2 separate regions of the Homo sapiens genome follow, and region 2 is linked to region 1. Evidence: fine-mapped expression QTL. A gene starts in region 1. The other region holds a variant in brackets. All regions are shown on one strand. Distances are from middle to middle.

Region 1 (10,738 bases):
ATATTTCCACAGAAGCAGGGGTGAAAAGAACAAATTTCCCCATATCTGACCTAAGAAAATGAATTATTTGAATCATAGTGAAAAAAAAGCAAAAGTAGGACAAGTAAGTGCTCCATTCATCCTTTCAATTAATCTAAAAATGAGAAGACTCTTACTCAGCCCACAGGAACTCAACATACAGTCAAGTTACTAACTACTTTATTTCAAGAAGGCAAGACACTTTGAATCTCAACCACCAAGAAACATACTGACCTGGCTCCAGACCCTGAAAAGCAAATTTCTGATGCCCATACCTCATCCCAAGAGCCTTTTTATTATCTCCATTATCAAAAGGAGAATTTTGTATTGGTGACTTCTTGGAATTTAGGTCCCTTCTTCTTCAGGTTTGAGGAAAGACCACGCTTTCCTCAGTGCCCTGGAATGTACACTGGTTGGAAGACGTTTCCCACTGCTCTAACCCCAGCCTGGAATCACAGACCCCCTTTATCACCTTGAGCCATGTTCCCCATTCCCCCTCTGTAAAACCCCAATGCGGCAACAAACCTGGACCAGAGCCCAGGGAGAATGGAGCTACCTCCACCAGCAAATCCCCAAGAAGCTGGCTCATGGGCAGGGGTCCCAGGATTGAACTCATGAGGTGCTCACAAGACTGGAGAATGAACACGTGGCCAACATGGAGCACCCGCTCATGTGCTCTCTCTCTCTCTTATCCCAACCATTCCCCTAATCACCTTCCATGAGTACAAACAGCCCTGGTTCTCCTACTGGCTACCAAACCAATACACAAATACCACCAAGGATAGTTTGCTGTTAACCTCAGGGAATGGTAGAGTTTCTGGACCTTTGCCTCCAAAGCGCCTCCCACCAAGCCCTGCCACTCCAGGGTGTATGTCATCATTGCCCCAGTCAGCAGAGCCTGGCAGCCTAGCATTTTGAATTATTACTGTCATTACATGTAGGAATGTGCATATAAACAAGGCACTTGGTACTTTCATAATGCTTCTCTCATCTCTTTTGTTTTGAGGTTAACCTTATGGGTTGTTTCTTTCAAACACCCAGGAAGAGATCACATCTCAAGATGGAGAGGCTTTAAGGAAGTCATTTGAAGCCAGGTGTGGTGGCATACACCTGTAGTCCTAGCTACTTGGGAGGCTGAGGCAGGAGGACTGCTTGAGCCCAGAGGGTCAAGGGTGCAGTGAGCTATGATCACACCACTGCACTCCATCCTGGGAAACAGAGCAAGAGCCTGTCTCAAAAAAGAAAAAGGAAGTTATTCGATTTCTGTCTTCTTAAACTGAGGGGGCATATGCCCTTCAGTTGCAGTCATGCTTTTTGTTATTCTCTCTACAACATTGAGATGGTCTGTCCGATTTTGCTTAGTTGAGCACAAAATGTCATGGTCAGTCCCAACACCAAAAAGATTCAGGGACCTGGAATCTTAGCTGGGTCTGCAGGAACGCTCAGATTTAATCACCCAACAGGAGTCATTTATTCAGCATCCTGAGCCTCCAGCAGTAAACAAGAGAGGACAACCAATCCCAGGAGAAAAGAATGGACAAAGAGCTGCTTGGGTATAGGAAAAGCTCATGGTCTCATGAAAGTGCATCACTGGCTTTATGGAAGGACCCTTCAGGAAAAAGCACTGCTCACATTCAAATGCTCCACCCAGGGTATTTCACTCTTTTTGCTGCTTTTCCAGGAAAGAAAAAATACTTCCTCTTGGAAACCCAAGTGGAAGGACTCAGCTTTTATTGTAACAGGAGAGCTACCGTATTTTCCATGCTTGGAACTAAATATCTGTGTTGAGAAGTCACTTTAATGAAAGAGTCTATGTAAATACATGTGCCACTTAATGGGAACACAGAATTACTTTCTAGTTGCTCCTGGGACCAGGTCATCAAGGTAAAGTTTTTCAATTTCATCAGGGAAGAGCAAGAAGTGACAATGGAATTTTTCTTTTTTTTCTTAGAGCCAGAGTTTTACTCTGTCACCCAGGCTGGAGTGCAATGGCACGATCACGGCTCACTGCAGCCTTGACCTCCTGGGCTCAAGTGATACTCCCACCTTAGCCTCCCAAGTAGCTGGGGCTAGAGGTGTATGCCACCATGCCCAGATAATTTTTTAGTTTTTATGTAGAAATGGGTCTCACTATGTTGCCCAGGCTGGTCTTGAACTCCAGGCTTCAAGTGATCCTTCCACCTCAGCTTCCTGAGTAGGTAGGGTTACAGGCTCAAGCCACCACACCTAGCTTGGAATTCTTAAATGGATGAACAATGTCATTTTGTCCATAAATACAGCATATTGAAGCAACCCAAACTCTATGGCCCAACTTTACAAGTGACGAAAAGTACTCTGTGTTTAGAAGAGATTGTTGAGACATCACTCGGGTGTGCTCAAAGAGTGTCTGTCAGTTCCCTATGACTCATTTGTTAATTCCCCTGTGGCTCCCTGCTTAAAACCATTATGAAGATGTCAGACCAAGGCAGCACAGTGGTCATGATGTCAAGCACAATGTTTATGGTAGCATCCCTCTTCTCCCTTCCCAGAGAGCAAAATAGTAACAAACAGCAAGGGGGTGTCAACAAGCTGGGGCAACAGGCCTGCCAGGCACACTGGAAACTGACAACCAGAGCATCCCTCAGGAGCTACCTCATGTTCCTGGTGGCTTTGATGGGGACATCTTCCTCTACTCACCCTCTCTCCACTGAGTACTTTGGAATTCCCAAAGCACTGTGTAAGTTTGTAAGGCATAATGGACCATGTCTTCTTCAGTTCATCAATTTTTCTAGAAAAGGTAGAAACAGGTATCTTTGGTCTTATGGTTTTCTCACCTTAGAAACTTTTCCATGAATGCTCTCAATCTTTACCTTGAACAGTATCATTGCAGGTCATTGGGGCCCTCCATCCAGCCCAGAAATGTGACGTATTAACACCTCAACGTGCCCAATGAAGGTGCCCCTGCCCCATTGTGGTGTCCCCATCTAATCCTGAGAGAACTGAGAACTCCTGTATGCATCCACATTAGGCATGGTCTCCTGCTCTAAGCTGTGTTGTCACCCTTGTTTATTGCTAACATGTCTCTGTGTCTACCTACTCATTGTGTGCCAACAGGCCTTTCTTTTTTTAATTTTTTAATTTTAATTTTAATTACTTTTTGTTTTGTTGGGTTTTGCTTTGTTTTGTTTGAGACAAAGTCTCACTCTGTCGCCCAGGCTGGAGTGCAGTGGTGCGATCTCAGCTCAATGCAACCTCCGCCTCTTGAATTCAAGTGATTATCTTGCCTCAGCCTCCTGAGTAGCTGAGACTACAGGCACTCCACGCCCAGCTAATTTTTGTATTTTTAGTAGAGATGGGGTTTCACCATGTTGGCCAGGCTGGTTGAGAACTCCTGACCTCAGGTGATCCACCCACCTCAGCCTCCCAAAATGCTGGGATCATAGGCATGAGCCACCGCGCCCAGCCCCTGGGTTTTTTTCTTTTTCTTTTCTTTTTGTTTTTTCTTTTTCTTTTTCTTTTTTTCTTTTTTTTTTTTTTTTAATCGAGACAAGGTCTCACTCTGTCTCCCAGGTGGGAGTGCAGTGGCCCAAAATTGTGGAATCATCTCACCATTATAAGCCTGTAAGAATGTCTCATTAGATTACTCTTTAATTTTTAAAATTGTTTTAATTTTTTTTTTTTCAAAACATAGTCTGACTGTCACCTAGGCTGGAGTGAAGTGCTGTGATCTCGGCTCACTGCACCCTCGACCTGCCTGAGCTCAGGTGATTCTCCTGCCTCAGCCTCCTGAGTAGCTGGGATTACAGCCCTGTGCCACCACGCCCAGCTAATTTTTGTATTTTTAGTAAAGACGGGGTTTCGCCATGTTGGCCAGGCTGGTCTCAAACTCCAGGGCTCAAGCAATCTGCCTGCCTCAGCCTCCCAAAGTGCTGGGAACCACCAACACCTGGCCTGTTTTAAAATTATTTTTAATTTTTTATTATTTTAACTTTTTAATTTTTTTAATTTTTGTTTTTTTAAAATTTTTAAATATTTATTTTATTCCATTTTTAAAATGTTTAAGTTTTTAAATTTCTTAAAGGCCTTACCAGTAGCATCATGTCGTACTCATCCTCTTCTTGCTATTCTAATCTTCTCCCTCCCTACATATATACACACACACGTACACACACACACGTACACACACACACATGCACGTACAGCAACACTCCAGCCCATTGCCTCACAGATTGCTATGCACCAACAGGCCTAAAATTAAAATAGTAATAGCAATGTAGTCACAAATATAAAATAATATAAAATTATTCTGCCACTAAGATCTTTTTTTTTTTGAGAAAAATACAACTTTTTAGAGCAAAAATATAGGGCAGCAACAGGAAGGCTCATTTTAAGCTGTTACGCTGCGTAGAGCTGCACCTTCACATGGCCTGTGAAAATACCTATTCACTGAATTTGGATTGTAATCAATAATTACCAGCCTAGAAGACCTCTGAAAGTTTGATCATTTTCTTCCCTCTGGGCAGGCAAATCTTCCCTGCATAGAGACACTGTGAGCTGGAAGGGAGTTCCTTCTCTCAGTGCGTCCTCTGTGCCTGCTTTTCCCATTTGCGTTTTTGAGAGTTCAGAACTCCAGGAAGGATCATCCTATGCTGGAGATTTCCCCGTGAACGTTTCCTTCTGCACAGAGCAAATCAGGGAGACTTGGCCCCTCTGTTCCGTCTATGGACTCTAGAGGCGTATCTGTCTTTTTAGTCTGTTAGCCGAGGCTGTTAGACATGTTGGCCTTAGTTCTTACACAGCTTGCAGAGAAAATAAGATTGTTATAGAACCAATACTCATGGTCTATGGGTTAATGTAGCATTGGCAAGACTGCCCATGAGGGCAGGCAAGGGATTTACCGTCTGGCAAAATACAAACACCTTAGTCTTTTGGCTTTCAGTTAACAAATATGACGTCGCATTTGGCCCTATTACAGCTACAGTTAAGTGCACACACATTTCTTTTCTCCCATTATTCGATTTGCACATGCTCACAAATCCAAAAGTAATGACATACTTGCATTAAAAGATATCTAAATTTTGATGAGTGTTGTAATGAACAGGAAAAATTATTCTATCATCTACAAATCTTTTCAAACTTGGGTTTTCTTTGCAAGGTCCTTAAGTTTCGCCTGAGTCCAATATTTCTTATGCAGCAGAGACACAATCATTGCCAACTGATCACCATACACTGGATTTTCATCCTCAATAAGCCCGAGTGTAAGATCCATGCCTCTGCTTCACACTCACCTGTCTTCAGTCAGTGCTCCTCCTTAGAGGTGGTGAGCCCACAGCGATTTATATAGAGTCCTGTTCTCTTGTTAAAAGTGTTCATCTCATCCTATTTTGGAGAGATTTATGACATCTCATAAATTATAATAATAATCATAATTATTATAAATACTCCGAACTTATATAGGGCCTTTTATTCGAGAATGTCCTGGCATTTTGCAAACATTAACCAATTTGTTTCTTGCCATACCTCAGAAGGCAGATCCTAGTTGTAGTTTAACTTTGACACATTGAGGTCCAACACTTGTCTTTATTCACATCATTTTCTGGGAATGTGGGTTAGGTAAGAAAACAAGGAAGGAAGAGAGAGAGAAAGAGAGAGAGAGTGAGAAGGAGAGAGAGAGTGAGAAGGGGAAGGGAGGAAGGGAAGAGGAAGGGAGGAAGGGAAGGAAGAAAGAAAAGGAAGAAGGAAGGAAGGAAGGGAGGGAGGGAATTGAACTTGGTGTGTCAGAAACTCATTATTGGTTTGTATTTCAGGTAAGCAGAGCGCCTAGACCAGGGGTTGGCAGCTTTTTCTTACAGACCCAGACAGGTTTTTGGGCTACGTGGTCTTTATAATGCCTCTGACATTGTAGCATGAGAGTGATCATAGATAATATTTAAATGAATGGCCAAGACTGTGTTCCAAAAAAAAAACTTTCTTTACTACACAGGTGGTGGCCCTAGGGCCGTAGGTTGCTGGCCCCTGTTCTGAACCACCGAGAGATACCAGTTCACATGTCCTCAGTTCAGCAATGTGGGGAGAGATGATCGGCTGGATGATGCTATTTTACAGACACCCAGGACCTACAGCGTGTTCCAAATGTCTACATCAATAAGTACTTTGAGAGGGTTCATATGAAGTTTCCAGGAAGGATTCTTTCCCAAGTTGTGGAAAGGGTGCATTTCATGACTGAAAGAGGGAGCCCCCTCCCTCACCACACCCTGTGCCCCAGCTCAGCTGAACAGCTTGATTTTCCCCAAACACAGCGCCATTCTTTGCACTAGGCATTCCTACAGGATCTTTCCTTTTTATCTAAACCCTCAGGGACAGGGGCTGTGTCTCATTCGTCTTTATAATACCAGCATGCAACACTCTGCATGATACATATTAGACACTCAGTAAAACACGTGGAATCAATGGCTTGCTTATCGGCTGACTGGTATACAGTCTGTTTCTTCTGCATCCCCTGCCTTAGCTCCCTCCCCATACCACAACTCAAACACAAGCTCCGTGAGAGCTGTGAATCTGGCTACTTCATTTATAAGACTGAGTCTTCAGTGCCCAGATAACAGCCTGGCACACTGTAAGTGTTCAGTAAATCTTTGTTGAATCAGTCAATGACTGAAGAATTCCTACAACCTCACCCAGCAAGATTTGGACTGGGCTTCCAATGCTGGGCCCCAGGTTAGACGTGTGTTCCTTGTGTTTCAAGCAACATGTGGATATTTCTACCATAGCACCTACAGCACTTTGGTTTGTTGTTGTCTTGAGAACAAAAACAAAGGCTTTTTTCTCCTGTATTCCTTATGGCACATAAGGGGTATTCAGTACATGTTTACGGAATGAGTAAATGAATGATTTAAAGCGTATTTATGACTTTTTGGAAGTCACTCACTCTGCATCCCCAGTGCAGACATTGAGGGTTAAGATTTTGTTATTCTCAGCCGGGCACAGAGCCTCACGTCTGTAATCCCAGCGCTTTGGGAGGCCGAGGCAGGTGGATCACTTGAGGTCAGGAGTTCGGACCAGCCTGGCCAACATGGCGAAACCCCATCTCTACTAAAAATACAAAAATTATCCAGGCATGGTGGCACACACCAGTAATCCCAGCTACTCGGGAGGCTGAGGCAGGAGAATCAGTTGAACCAAGAGGGAGAGGTTGCAGTAAGCCAAGATCATGCCAGTGTACTCCAGCCTGGGCCACAGAGCAAGCCTCCATCTGAAAAAAAAAAAAAAGAAGATTTTGTTTTTCTCTACTTGTGACTGAGATGGTGAGACCACAAGGCAGGGCACTGTGAGCAAGGGTCCAGATTTGGACACCCAGGGAGTTCCTGAACTTTAACTCTGGGAGGGGAGTGTGAGAACACTGGGTTCCTCTCGGTTGTTGGCAGAGTTGGGGTAAAAAGAGAACTAATGCACCCATTAAAAACTCTATCCTGACCCCCAAAATGGAACTCATCCATTTTATTTTTTCCACCAAGCTCTAGCACATACCAACAATTAAAAGGTATTACAGTGTGGGGAAATCTGGGGATGCCCAGCTCCACCTACAAAAGCACCCTGTCATCAGCCCAGAGGGCCATGTTAGCATCCTGGGAGGTTCTCCTGGGCAGCAGCCAGCATGTTGCCTGGCAAAGGCTCCACAGAGACGAAATGGCTTCTCACAAACCCTGCCTCTCTATGATGACTTCCACCTCCTCACCTGCTGCACCTGGGTCCCCACCCTAAGAATCCTAGAAGCTGAGGAGGTCGTTCTCCATCCAGCCTCCGGGACACTCCGCAGGCACATGACGGTCAGATTTATGTTTTAAAAAGTGTCCCCTGGCTGCTGATTGCATTGGAGGTGAGCCAGAGTGACTCGGGAGACTTCACAGAAGACCAGAAGAGAGATGATGGTTGGACTAGAGTGACGGGGCTATGGCTTGGCTGTGTCTCCACTGAAATCTCATCTCAAATTGTAGCTTCCATAATTCCCTTGCATTGTGGGAGGGACACAGTGGGAGACAATTGAATCATGGAGGCAGTTTCCCCCATACTGTTCTCCTGGTAGTGAATAAGTCTCAAGAGATCTGATGATTTTATAAGAAGAAACCCCGGCCGGGCACGGTGGCTCACGCCTGTAATCCCAGCACTTTGGGAGGCCCAGGCAGGCGGATCACGAGCTCAAGAGATAGAGAACATCCTGGCTAACACAGTGAAACCCCGTCTCCACTAAAAATACAAAAAAATTAGCCAGGCGTGGTGGGGGCACCTGAGACTTCAGGGGATTGTTGGGAAGGCAAGATTGGTTTTGAAATGTGAGGACATGAGATTTGGGAGGGGTCAGAAGTGGAATGATATGATTTGGCTCTGTCCCCACCAAAATCTCATCTCAAATTGTAGCTTGCATAATTGCCTTGTGTTGTGGGAGGGACCCAGTGGGAGACAATTGAATCATGGAGGCAGTTTCCCCCATACTGTTCTCATGGTAGTGTATAAGTCTCATGAGATCTGATGATTTTATAAGAGGAAACCCCTTTCACTTGGCTCTCACTCTTCTCTTGTCTGCTGCCATGTGAGACATGCCTTTCACCTTCCGCCATGATTGTGAGGCCTCCCCAGACAAGTGGAACTGTGAATCTGTTAAACCTCTTGCTTTTGTAAATTGCTCAGTCTCAGGTATGTCTTTATCAGCAGCATGAAAGTGGCTAAGAGAAAAAGGAAAGATATTACAGATCTATTTTAGAGGTGGAATTGACAGGACTCAGTTTGGGACAAGACGCCAAGGATGAGAGCAAAGAAGAGGACATAAGTGCCTGGGAGGATGGTACTAAGTCTGGAATGCTGAAGATGAAAGCACATTTACCAAAGAAGATGAAGTTTTAGGCTGGGTGGAGTGGCTCACGTCTGTGGTTCCAACACTTTAGGAGGTCAAGGCACTTCAAGACCAGCCTGGGCAACATAGCAACATCCTGTCTCAATTTATGAAAAAGAAAAAGAAAGGATTATGTTTTAACTCCCATGTAACAAACCTACACGTGTACACCTCAATCTAAAAATGTTTTTAAAGAGAAAAAATAACAAATTGTGGTGTAGATATGGAGAAATGGAGCCCTTATACACTCTAGGTGGGTATATACACGAATCTAGCCATTATGGAAAACAGTATGGAGATGCCTCAAAAAATTAAAAGTAGAAGTGGCATATGACCCAGAAATCTCACTGCTGGGTATGTATCCAAAGAAAATGGATATGTCAAAGGGAAATATGCACTCCCATGTTGACTGCAGCATTATTTGTAATAGCCAAGACACAGAATCATCCTAAGTGTCCATCAACACATGAGTGGATAAAGAAAATGCAGTATATACACATAATGGAATAATATTTTGTCATTAAAAAGCATGAAATCCTGTCATTTGCAGCAACACGATCAACCTAAAGGACATTAAGTGAAATAAGGCACAGAAAGACAAAATCACCCATTTGTGAAATCTAAAAAAGTTGATCATGTGTAATGGCCAGGTGTGGTGGCTCACGCCTGTAATCCCAGCACTTTGGGAGGCCGAGGCAGGCAGATTACCTGAGTCGGGAGTTCGAGACCAGCCTGGCCAACATGGTAAAACCCCGTCTTTACTAAAAGTACAAAAATTAGCCGGACATGGTGGTGGGCACCTGTAATCCCAGCTACTCAGGAGGCTGAGGCAGGAGAATTGCTTGAACCTGGAAGGTGGAGGTTGCAGTAAGCCAAGATCCCGCCACTGCACTGGGAAACAGAGCAAGACTCCATCTCAAGAAAAAAAAAAGGCGATCTCATAGAAGTAAAGAGCAGAATAGTGGCTACTAGAGGCTGGGGAGGAATGGGGAGAGATTGGTTGCATGCAAAATTACAGCTAGATAGGAGGAGTAAGTTCTGGTGTCCTATTGCACACTGCAGTGACTATATTTAACAATATTGTAGTGTATACTACAAAATATCTAAAAGGGAAGCTATTTAGTATTCTCATCAATTTGAGGTGATGGATATGCTAAATACCCTGATTTGATCATTACACAACTTATCCCATAAATCTATGCAATTCTTATGTATAAATTAAAAATAAAACTTTTACAAAATATATAATATCTTTTTATTTTGAGACGGAGTCTCGCTCTGTCACCCAGATGGAGTGAGCGTGATCTCAGCTCACTGCAACCTCCGCCTCCTGGGTTCACACCATTCTCCTGCCTCAGCCTCCCGAGTAGCTGGGACTACAGTAGCCTGCCACCATGCCCGGCTAATTTTTTGTATTTCTAGTAGAGGCGGGGTTTCACCGTGTTAGCCAGGATGGTCTCGATCTACTGACCTCATGATCCGCCGGCCTCAGCCTCCCAAAGTGCTGGGATTACAGGCATGAGCCACCACACCCTGCCTCATGATTTCTTATAAGTAAAAAACACACAAAAAAGGAGAGACCAGAGAATTGAATCCAGCCATCTAAATGGACATTGAACCCACTCAGCATGACAGAGTCAAGAATAAGACTTTGAGACAAGTGTGAACGTTTTCTTGAAAAAGTGAGGATCCAGGAGGTCTGAAAGGACAAGCCAGGGACATGGTGGCTCATAGCACAAGTTTCTGAGACACAGCCCCTGTCCCTGAGGGGTTAGATAAAAAGCAAACAGCCTGTAGGAAGGCCTAATGCAAAGAATGGCGCTGTGTTTGGGGAAAATCAAGCTGCTTAGTTGA
Region 2 (10,738 bases), 820 kb before region 1:
GAAGTGGGTGAAACTTTACAGGGAAATTGCTGTTTAAATTGGTCATGTAGCATGAGTACAAATTGTCAAGCAGACAAGAACAGGAGGGGCACTCTTAAGTGGAGCGGACAGCTGAGCAAAGGCATAGAGAGGGCACTTGTGAGATGCTGTCGGGAGCAGCTTGTGAGTGTGGTACTTAGGAAGCTTGGGAGACAGAGGAGGGCCAGGAGATCCATCCTGGGTGCAACTTCATGCTGCATTCTGTGTGTGCCGAGAGCCACAGAGGGGATTTAAGCCAGGGAGTTATTAGCCCATTAGATTTACAAATTAAGAGAGACCTCTAAAACCCCATGGGCGGTGTTTCAAGTTCTGAGGTCATCTTTCTTTCTCAGCTATTTAAATTTGTCTCTTGACCAACCAGGATGACAGATGAGGTAGGAGAGGGAGCATAAGCCTTGGAGGAAAGCAAAACTATGGGTAACACAGAAGTAGTCAGAATATAGTGCAAAATACATTTAATCTGGCTGAAATTACTTGTAAAATTTAGCAGGACATTGAACATTTACAGATACTTTGTTTTTTTGCTTTAGGCGTCAGTATTACATTGCATGACCAACAATGGTTGTAGTCTCCTGCTGTTTGCTGGGGCATGCTGGGCTGTGTGGGCAGGGCTGGGGTTCAGCCACCCTCTCCCTTCTACCTGCTTTTCTCACCTGGGGTGGGGGCTTTGGGAGGAGGGGAGCAGTACTACCCATAGTGGGCAGGGATGGGCCTCTGGGGCGGGGGGAGCCTGTGTGTCCACCTTGCCTGCCACTAATTTTAAATAACAGTGTGGAATGCTGTTATAATGGTTTTTATTTTAAATTTTTTTCCACAAATGCACTATCTTCTCATTTTTTTATCAAGGCTAATCTACAAATGTTTAATCCACCCACAGGTAATCCAGATTTGATGCAGAATTTTACTGAAATCAACTCCAAATAGCTTTGTGGTAACAAGTCTTTGCAATGTGATTTTGCCTATGTTTTTCTCCTTAATGAGTCAGACTTGCCACATGAAATTTTTACCATCCCAAAACTTTTTGAAGAATTTAATTAGAATGGGTACATAGGATAATGAAGATTCACATTGTAGAAACTTTTAAAATTTGAGTTTCGATTGTTCCTGGAATTTTAATTTCTCTTATTTGGTGCTAGGTGATTCCCAGTTTTAGGGCCAGGTGTTGCCAGGACACACAAGCCAGTGATAGTTTGACTAAGCTTTAGGGTTGTATATTAAAGTAATGCCTGGCTGGATGCCCAGTCAAACTAAGACATGCTAAGCTCCACATTTGAGCAGTAATGGCCCTGTTTGCTGTCCCTCGGGAGGGTTCACACCCAGGAGCTCAGAGCAGGGACTTTCTCCTCCAGGGTGGGCCCCTCGCTCTGGGGAAGAGCTCTCCTTCACCAAGCCCCCTTTAGGTATCTGGTCTCCAGCCACAGTCAGGGAGGCTCTCAGCTGGGGTGCTGGGACCCAGCCCTGGGGTGTGTGTGGGGAGGAGCCCTGCTTGGGGGAGGGGTGGCGCTCCTGGAGACCTCTCCTGGCTCAGAGGGGAGTGATGGGCATTCTGAAGCGTGTCCAGCAGGGCCCACCTCCCTCTGCGCTCATGGTTTCCACAGTGGTTTGCCTCATTCACCATCACCTGAGAATGGCCAAGATAGCCTTGCCTCCCTTCCTGTCTTCCAGAAATTCTCATGGGGCCCTCCAGCCCGTTCTCTTCCTGGCCTGTGACGATAGCGGGTTAAGTTTGTACTTTTAACAGTAATTAACCTTCTTCAAGGCCTTGTTTGCCGTTATAAGTGTTCCCTGTTCTCTGGGTACTCACAGCCCCTTCCTTGCTGTCCTTGATCCAGCGGCATGGCCTGAGTGCCTCCATCCCCCTGTTTCTGGATGGCTAGAAGAGCCTCTGGGGTATCTGATTGTCAGATGGGCTTAGCAGGAGTGGTAGTAGTAATAGTGGCAAATACTTAAGTAGCATTTTTGTGCACTGGGCACATTTAGAGGGATTAAGTCATCTGATTCTTGCAGTAACCCCATGAAGTAGATGATTCTGTAACACCCATTTCAGGAGCAGGAGACTGAGGAGCAGAAGGTGAAATGAGTTCTCCCTGGGGACGTGTAGCGTGGCGGGTGAGCGGCAGTTGGGGTTGGAGCCCGGATGGTCTGGCTCTGGGGCCATGCACAGCATGCTGTGTGCAGCTCCCCCGCCGTCCCGTCTCCCTGAGCTGCCTGCTTCAGGCACGCTTCTTGGCTCTTTGTCCTGAATGGTGTGGTGGTACAGCTTGGTCTTCCTGCCTGGTAGGGAAACCATAGCCATGGGAGTCCTAGTACTGAGCAAGTGACTGTTCCTGACCCGTTTCCAGATTCTAGGGGCAGCTTTACAGCCTTTCTCTGAGATACTTGGACACCATGTTACCAGACCACAGCCTAACAACAGAGGATGAACCAGAGCCTCAATGTCGGCGAGTCTTGGGCCATTTTGGCTGTTGATTGCCTCTCTCCTGCCCTGTATCTCCAGGAACTGTCAACGTTGGTCTTGTAGAAACTGCTCTCTCTTTGTGAGTGAACAAGACCATGGCTGTCTCAGTCCCTCCGTTAGTGACTATCCTTGTTCAACCCAGAGTCCAGGAGTCTGATGAACAGAGGCTTTCTCCCTCTACCTCACCCTGCCTTTTACCTCTCCCTGCCCTGTGTGGGTCTTGCCCAGGAGACAGCGGTTGGATGAGGGAGGAGAGGCTAAGGGCCCCTCTAATGTGGACAGCCTGGGCCCTGCTGTGGGAAGAGAGCCACATGGCATGGATTGGAAATGGAGAGGGCAGAATTTGAGTCAGGAGGACCACCAGCAGCCGTGCTAGCTCTTGAGGCCTAGGTCTTCTGGCCTTTAAAATGGGACTGGAGTGGGAGGTGGATTCAGTGCGAGTGCAGTCCCTGCGGCCTACAACCTACTGTTATTGTGCGGTGCTGGTCTCCAAACTCCAGGTCTATTTTGTAGCCTATTGAGGAACTGCCTCTGATCTCCCTAAAATAGGATGTGCTATTTTGGACACTGCCGTAGGTGGGAGGGATGTGTGTTTAAAGCTAAAATAGAGCGCACTTTAATTTGCGGGTGTTTCCTTTTTCTTTCTCAGCCACACTGTGTTTAAGTCACAGTGTCCTCCCTCCCACCCAGGAGCACAGCCTCAGGCAGGCCCTGCTCTTGGTGGAGGCCTCGTCATGACTGATGAGGGAGGTGGCCACCAGAGAGGAGGATTCCTGTCGCTTGGGACCAGGACTGCTCCAAGTCCAGGGAGCTTTTACAAGGCTCTGTTCCTGGATGGCTTCTCTGCCGATCTGAGGTCCAGGGTGTGAGAAGCTGAGCCAGCCTTGCAGTCCAGCTGAGTGCCTCTCCACCAGACCTGCGCTGCTGTTAGAGTCAAGGCGAGGCAGGGCTGTGGGGGTAGGGGTGGCAGAGCACACCCCTGATCCCTAGTTAGTGGAGTTAACTCTGGGCACTCCCTCCCCCGACTTTCTTTGCAACAAATCATGGTGATCTCTTTTGACCTTTTTGATGGTTACCAATGTGGCTGTGAAGAGGGTCCCTGCCCCAGCTGGGGAGAATAGGGTGAATGGGAGTAGGAAGGTTGAGGGGGTGAGGGTAGAAGGGTGTGATGGATTTCCGAGAAGGTTGCAGGTATGTGTCTGTCCTATTCTGTCCTGACTTACTCTGCATTCAGTTCTAGCTGAGCATGAATGCAGCCCGCACCCATGACTTTCTGTGGTGGTGCTATTTTTCTGTTTTTTGAAAAGAAAGAGGTCCGGTTTTTTTGTAGATTGTTAGGACTTAACTGGAAATAATTGTGTAAGTCTTCAGGCATCTTTCGAAGATGGCAGGCTAGAGATAGCTACTCCAACTTGAATGCCTAGCAGTCACCTAGAAGACTTGTTCAATGCAGATACTGGGCCCTACCCACAGGGAGTCAGCCTTCATAGGTCGGGCACTTCCTCCCGGCTCCTGGGTGGTACTGCTACTGCCAGTTCACAGACCACACTTCCAGTTGCCCTAGAGTGCTTGTTCCTGTTCCACTCCCCACTCAAGATATTATTCGCTGATTTTTATCACCTTCCCCAAACTAGGCTACTTATTTTGGTGCTAATTGGTGGCACTTCTAATTTTAGAAGTGTGGGGAGGTGCTCCTGTCCCCATTTGGCTGCAGTGGTGCTGATGGGGGGTATCTGCTGTGCCTTGGGTGGGAACTTCTCCTGTGTGTGCTTCGTGAGATATCCCGAGGCTACCCTACTTTGATGAGTTGAGCAAGGTGTCTTAGAAGCCAGGCGCTGACTGCTCTATCATAATTAGAAGACAGTTAGCAATAAATACATAGTCAGTGGCATCTCTGCATGGGGATGGCTGGTTTGAAGCAGCTTGCTCCAGCCATGGGAAACAGAGTTTTGACCCTACTATTTATGAACTGACAGTGTGGGCTGCATCAGGATCTTTCCAGGTATGCCAGGAGGCACAGAACCCACGTATAACCTGCAGCCCACAGTTTCTGTGACACAGAAAGTGTGGTCAGGTGCTGGGAAATCATTGTCTCATAGATAAAACATCTGACA[C/T]GCACCAGCTTTTCTGAAACAACTAATGGTTGCAAATGGAATTCGGGGTACACAGGATAGCAACAGATTTCTTCCTGTCCTTGAAGAAAACTGTCTCCTTTGTCCCTGTTTGACCAACTTCGATTGAGCTGGAGCCCTTTGTGCCTGGCCCTGGGCTGTCCCTTCTGTCAGGGTCTCTGTCTGGTACAGGGGTCAGCTCTCCCTTGGGCTGTGCACTTACCTAAAACTGCCTCCCAGACACCTAGTTTGTGACTTCCTAGAAAGCCTGAGACAGGAAGCTATTTTCTTAAGGCTTTAGAAACTGCCCCCAAACAGCACAGAATGGCAGGGTCCTGCCCCCAGGGAGTGCTGCTTGAGGTCTGTTTCCTGCAGTCAGGGCTTCCAGCCAGCTTGCTGTCCTTGCCAGCACCTCCTCTGCTGCCCGCTAGACACGGAGCCTCTGGCTGACACCCTCCCTGCCAGCCCCAGAGGCCTGCCTTCTCAGCCTCTGCTGAAACTAAAGCTTTTTTTCTGTTTCTGTAGGGCATTGGGTGGAGCCTTGCCAGGGGCTCCTGGTTCTGACTGTCTTGGGTGGGTGGGGAACTCAGCCCTGAGAGGTTGGCTCACTGAGCATTTACCATATGCTGGGCATTGGGCCAGATGTCTGTCTAGGATCAGTTTATTAATCCCCAGCTACCTGATGAGGTAATTATTATTCATTTCCATTTTGCAGAGGAGGGAAGGGATGCTCAGAGAGAGGTGGAGTGACTTACCAGATTTTTATCTGGTGCCCTATCATATGCTCTTACGACACAGAGCAGCTTTTTGCTGTAGAAAGGACTGTCGTCATTTTACCTGTGTTAGGAACATCATCACTGACTGTGGTTCCCCTGCACTGACATTCTGGGCATTAAGGGCTGAGTCTGGGCTCTTTCTCCTATGGGTGTCTGTCCTCTCACTTGGCCCCAGGCCTTGGTGACCCTCTGTGCACTGAAGGAGTAAATGACTGAGGTGGCCAGCTAGCTCCCGTGCATTTGCACACATGGTCCCTCACTCCTGGCCCCCATCCCTTGCCAGGCAGAATGTGCCCGTCTCCAGTCCCTTGCATTGCTGGCAGCCTCAGACCGGAGAGCACTGAATCTTCCACTAGCCTGTCTTCTTGCCAGCTGCAGCCCCAGGGCGCGTGTGTCCGTCTCCGCAGCCAAACTCCCCCTGTGCTGGCCTGTGGAGGGTGAGTGGGGGGCAGGGTGCCGCACACTCTGGACCCTTCCAGCCCCAGGAAGGAGTTGTGGTGCTGCACGTGCTCCATTCTCACATGCTTCTCAGGCTGCAGGCTGTGCATTACCAGTGTGCAGTTTAGGAAACTGAGGCCCAAAGAGAGCAAAGCAGCACCTGGGGACTGACCTTGAGTTACACAGGTGTGCTTCAAGTTCTTCTGCTAGTTACCTTTCAATGCCAACACTGGGGAGGGGGTGTCCTAACAAAACATAATTTAATCAGAGCACTGTGAACTTTTCCTGCATCTGACACGTCCCTCTCAAGGTGGAGGGTGTCACCACCTGCTGCCCATTGTAATCCCTCACCCCACAGAGAGGCCAGGAAGTGAACAGGAGACTTGGAGGAATGTGGACCTGGTGTGATCCTGTGTGGAGCAAGGATGTCTTCCTCTGAAAATTCCCTGGGGGGAAAGAAATGGCATACATTTCCTATACCAGTGGGGGCTTGGTCCCTTGGCACGCATAAATCGACCACTCTTGGCAGCCAGAACCCTCGCTCCTCCAGTTTTATTCTGGTTGCCTGTGGCTCTTGGATAATCCTGTGGTCTCTTTGGGGTGCTGGTTTCTTTAGGGAGCTGCATTTGGCTTAAGGCTGGCATATGTTTTAGCTATCTGAAGTGGTTTTAGATATAAAGATTCAGTGACAGAATTCTCTATATAAAATGATTATATCACATTGAGCCTCAGTAACAGATTAATGGGGAAGGAAGGATTTATTATGTTTCCAAGTGATCCAATGTGAGCAAGCAGGCTTTGTACCAGGGGAGAATTCTAAGTGCTTGTCCTCCCTGTGGAATTGTGTTTTGCAGAATCCCAGGAAGACAGGGAGGCTGTGACAGCCTGTAAATGTGATGCTCAGCTGGCCTTGAGTGTCAGCTAGCTTGCTGGTCTTCAGGGTGCTCCCTGTCCACGCACCACCTCTGGCTGGGCTTTCCGTTCTCTAGTGAAAGGTTTTCTCAGCAGCACCTTTGCCTCTCCTTCTCCCTTCATTACGAGTTTGCCATGTTGGAGTTGGATTGTTTGATGTCTTGTCCTGGCTTAACAACTCAACACTGTGTACTTTAAAAGCTCCAAGTTTAGGCTCACACCTGTAATCCCAGTTTTTTGGGAAGCTGCAGTGGGAGGATCACTTGAGGCAAGGAGTTTGAGACCAGTTTAGTTGACAGAGTAAGATCCTGTCTTTAAAATAAATATAATTTTTTAAACTTGAAATTTAAGCAGAAGCCACGTTAAAGTGGCACAGCAGGTGATGTGAGGGACCCTGTTGGGCCACCTTGCTGTAAAATGTTTTCTGTATCCTGCTTTTTTCCTCTTTGCCTTTACACCTGTGGTTCCCACATTATTGGGCTGAGACTCTGGAGATCTGGGTAAAATCCCATCCTAGAGGGACAGCAGGTTAAATCACTTTTCCTATCTTGGCCAGCTGTGGTTTAGCTTATTGGCACCAGTCAGAGCAGGGCCTCAAGGGATGTTAGGATTGGTTGCACCTGGTTCAGAATATGGGGCCCTGCAAGGAGGGCAGTCTGAAGAAGAGTGGGATTAAAAACGAAAGCAGCCAACAGAAAGGTGGGCACCTAGAGGCAGGTGCAACTGGCTGTCCTGGAAAGCAGAGAGGGGCAGCTGTGGGCCTCTGTGCAATGGCCCCTCCACTTGTCACACCTGCCAGAATGGAGGTGTCTCCCCAGTGGGCCTGTCACAGGGAGGCCAGCGACCAGCCAGTCAGTGCTGACAGTAGGCAAGTGTGGTTGACATCCAGGGATGAGCCTCTGAGCAACCCTGGGATGTGATGCAAAAAGATATATGTGTCCTCTTGCATTTAAGAGAAATGCAAAGCTTTTGATCTAAGCTTACACTTGAAAAAATTATACTTACATTGCTTTTTTGAAAATAAGTGAAAGCATAATAGAGGTTGAACATCCCTGATCTGAAAATCCAAAATTTGAAGTACTTCCAAACCTGACACTTTTTTAGCACTGACATGACCTTCAGAGGAAATGCTTATTGGAGCATTTTGGATTTCAGATTTTTGGATTAGGTGTGCTGAATCTGTACGTATATAATGCAAATATTTCAAAATCTTAAAAAAATTCCAAACCCTAACCACTTCTGGTGTCAAGTATTTCAGATAAGGGATACTCAACCTGTGCTAATAATGATTTTGGCATGTACTCTATAATAATAAAATGTTTATTAGGCAGTCCTTTATGTGAAAAATGATAGGAATAACAATACAGTGAATCGCAACTCAGCTTTAGACATTTTCATGACCAATACACTTGAAACTACATATGCCTTCCCACCTTCTCTCTAGGTTACCATTACCCCAAATTTGCTTTTCATTTTTTCCATTCATCGAATTCTTTGTGTTTTGTGACCCAGTCAGTCCTACTAGTTTTCGTGCTAGGAGACAGGAAGCAAGCATTGCTTAGTTTCACTCTTGTGATGCTTGTGGTCAGAAACAGGTATTTCTTGAAACTGGGCTTGTGGCTGCAGGGCTGCCCCAGGCGGGGCAGAGATGGTCAAGTGCAAGGTGGGGCTGCTGTGGGGCCAAGTCCTGATGGATCATGTTCCCCCCCGGTCTTGTCTTTCTAATGTCTTGCTGCATGTGGGATCTGTCGCCACTGCCAGTGGGAAGGGCAGGCTAGTCTGTGTCCATCTTTGTTGCAGAGTTGGCTTCCTTCAGGCAGGTTCATCCTACACTGAATGTCCCTGTGGTCCATGCCTCAAAACACCTCATCATTAGTATTACTTCTGAGCCCTGCCTAAACATAGCAGCGTGGACCAGCTCTCAGTCCTTTCTCTTCCTGTCCCTACCCCACCTTCCTGTTGGCTACTCTGCTCCCATGGATGGTTGAGAGGGAGACCCTCTTCTGTGTGGCTAGCCAAGGTTGCACATTGGCTGCACCCAACAGATGGACTGCATCTGTAGTCAGTCTAGTGAAGTCCGGTCTTCCTCTCCACCCTCTTGCCTGAGCCTCCACCTTTGCATAAAGAAGCTCCTGCACCCCCATCCCTCCTTGCAGATGCCCCTGCCCACACCCCATCTCTTCACATAACTGAAAGATGGCTGGTTCTCCCAGAAGAGCCAGAGGCCTCTAAATGGAGTGAGGTCCTTTCTCTGCATGTCCTGTCTCTCTCCAGAGGTGGGCTTGGAATCTCTTTCGCTTTGACCGGTGACTACCATCCCCTCCACTCCTGTCCCTCCCCTGCATCACTCCATGTTACCCCTGGCCCCAGAGGTCTCTGAGGTCCCATCACCTTCTGATGACTCTGTCTGCAGGGATGAGTCTGTTGTTACTGAGCCGCTAGCCTTCAGCTTCCTCTCCCATGGTCATTCCCGAGGCTGCCCACTCCCCCTAGTTGCCCACAAGCCTTATGAACTCCCATCTCCGTTCCTCCTGTGTGGCCTGTTCTGGTTCCCTCTCCTCCCTGTCAGGCTCACTGTATCTTTGTTTCCCATGATCCTGCAGTCAGGGAAGACCAAGCCCCAGTTACTTTCCTGATGAGCTCAAAGTCCAGAATGCAGTCACGTGACTGGGGTGGGAAGCCATGCACAGGGCCCTGAGAGGGTGTGAGGGATTCGAGGCAGCCTGTGGAAGGAGAGCCCTTCCAGCTGAGATGAATTCAGCCCCAGAGAGGCACTAAACAACCTAAGGATGGTACAGTTCCCCAGTTATTAAAATTTTGCATACTTACTATAAAGGGTTTAGTAAAACATAGTCTAGAGGAAGAAAACCAGAAAAGCATGATGTGTCCATCTCCCAGTGCTTAACATTTTTATACGTGTTCTTTTCCTCTCTCCCACTCCGCGTGAGTGCTTCTATGTCTTTATATTGGTAGATCTTACTTAGAATCTGACTTTTTCGCTTGTCAAGTTGTCATAAAACTGATTTCCATTTCAAATGTCTATATGGTATTCACATATGACGGAGCCATTATTTACCATTTCCCTGACAGGCTTGTAGGCTGCTATTTAATCTTTCAATTTATGGTATAAAATCCTTTATAGTACAGGTAATGCTGCAGTGAGCATCCTTGTCTGAGATCCCACCGAGAGTAGTGGCTTCAGTCTTCCAATCAGTGGCTTTTCTCTCACTTGGCTGGCCTCTTGAAGCGAACAGAGTGTGTGTGTGTCCTGGTAGCTGAGTAAACTCCAGCTCCGCACATCTGCTTGGCGGGGCGGTTGGGATCTAAATGAGTGTGACCTCAGCTTTTGTGGTAGTGGAGACCATCCTGATCATGCAGGGTCCTTGCTGCTTGCAGGCCCGTGGCTGCTGAAGAGCTGAAGAAATGTTACTTCTTTGTAAGAAACATTTTAGACTGAAATAAAAACCTGTTATAATCATGCGGTCTGGTTGCAGCGTGAAATATGTTCACAGTCTAAGATTCAGGTGAAAAGGCAGGATGCCAAATCTTGTGTACTTGCTGATCTTATCTGTGTAGAATATCCAAGTCAGAACTGATTTTAGTTAAGGTATCTGTGGGGGGTGGGGTTTCCCTCTCTATATTTTCCAAGCCTGCAGTAAGAGAACTATGGCAATCATCTTTCTTTTTAACATATCCAGCTTACTGCCCTAGGTTGGCCACAGTCAGATTTCTTGAAAGCCCCTAGGGCTGGGCGCAGGTGTCTGGTTGTCCCTCCGAGACTCAGGGCTCACTCTCGCTTCGGGAACACTAATGCAACTCTTCTGGTGGTGAGAACCCAGCTGAGAGTTCCTTTATTTTGTTGATTTCAGGGTGTAGGTATTTAAATATTTGAAAGTATTTTGATTTTTAAATGAGATGTGTGGGAACTTTTTTGATTCATCACCCTTGGAATGGTTACAGAGTTTTGTTTTTATAATACAAAACTTTCTTGAGGTGAATCTGTG

What was found. PIP is the estimated chance that this variant, and not a neighbour inherited with it, causes the effect.
Region 2: its variant is fine-mapped to the expression of LYG1 in sun-exposed skin (GTEx, PIP 0.98).

Annotation. Positions count from the first base shown.
Region 1 is chr2:99,295,765-99,306,502 of GRCh38, forward strand. It overlaps LYG1 (lysozyme g1), which reads right to left and starts at 5,433. Exons shown (of 7, transcript NM_174898.3): 1 at 5,286-5,433; 2 at 2,695-2,785. All of the region lies in intron 1 of LOC107985923 (a long non-coding RNA gene), which reads left to right. It also overlaps a transcript of TXNDC9 not described here.
Region 2 is chr2:98,475,059-98,485,796 of GRCh38, forward strand. The region is part of intron 1 of INPP4A (inositol polyphosphate-4-phosphatase type I A); the gene reads left to right. Among named protein-coding and RNA genes, the nearest start is that of INPP4A, 36 kb to the left of the region's middle. RefSeq lists an enhancer at 8,171-8,290. The variant C/T (reference allele first, on the strand shown) is at 4,612.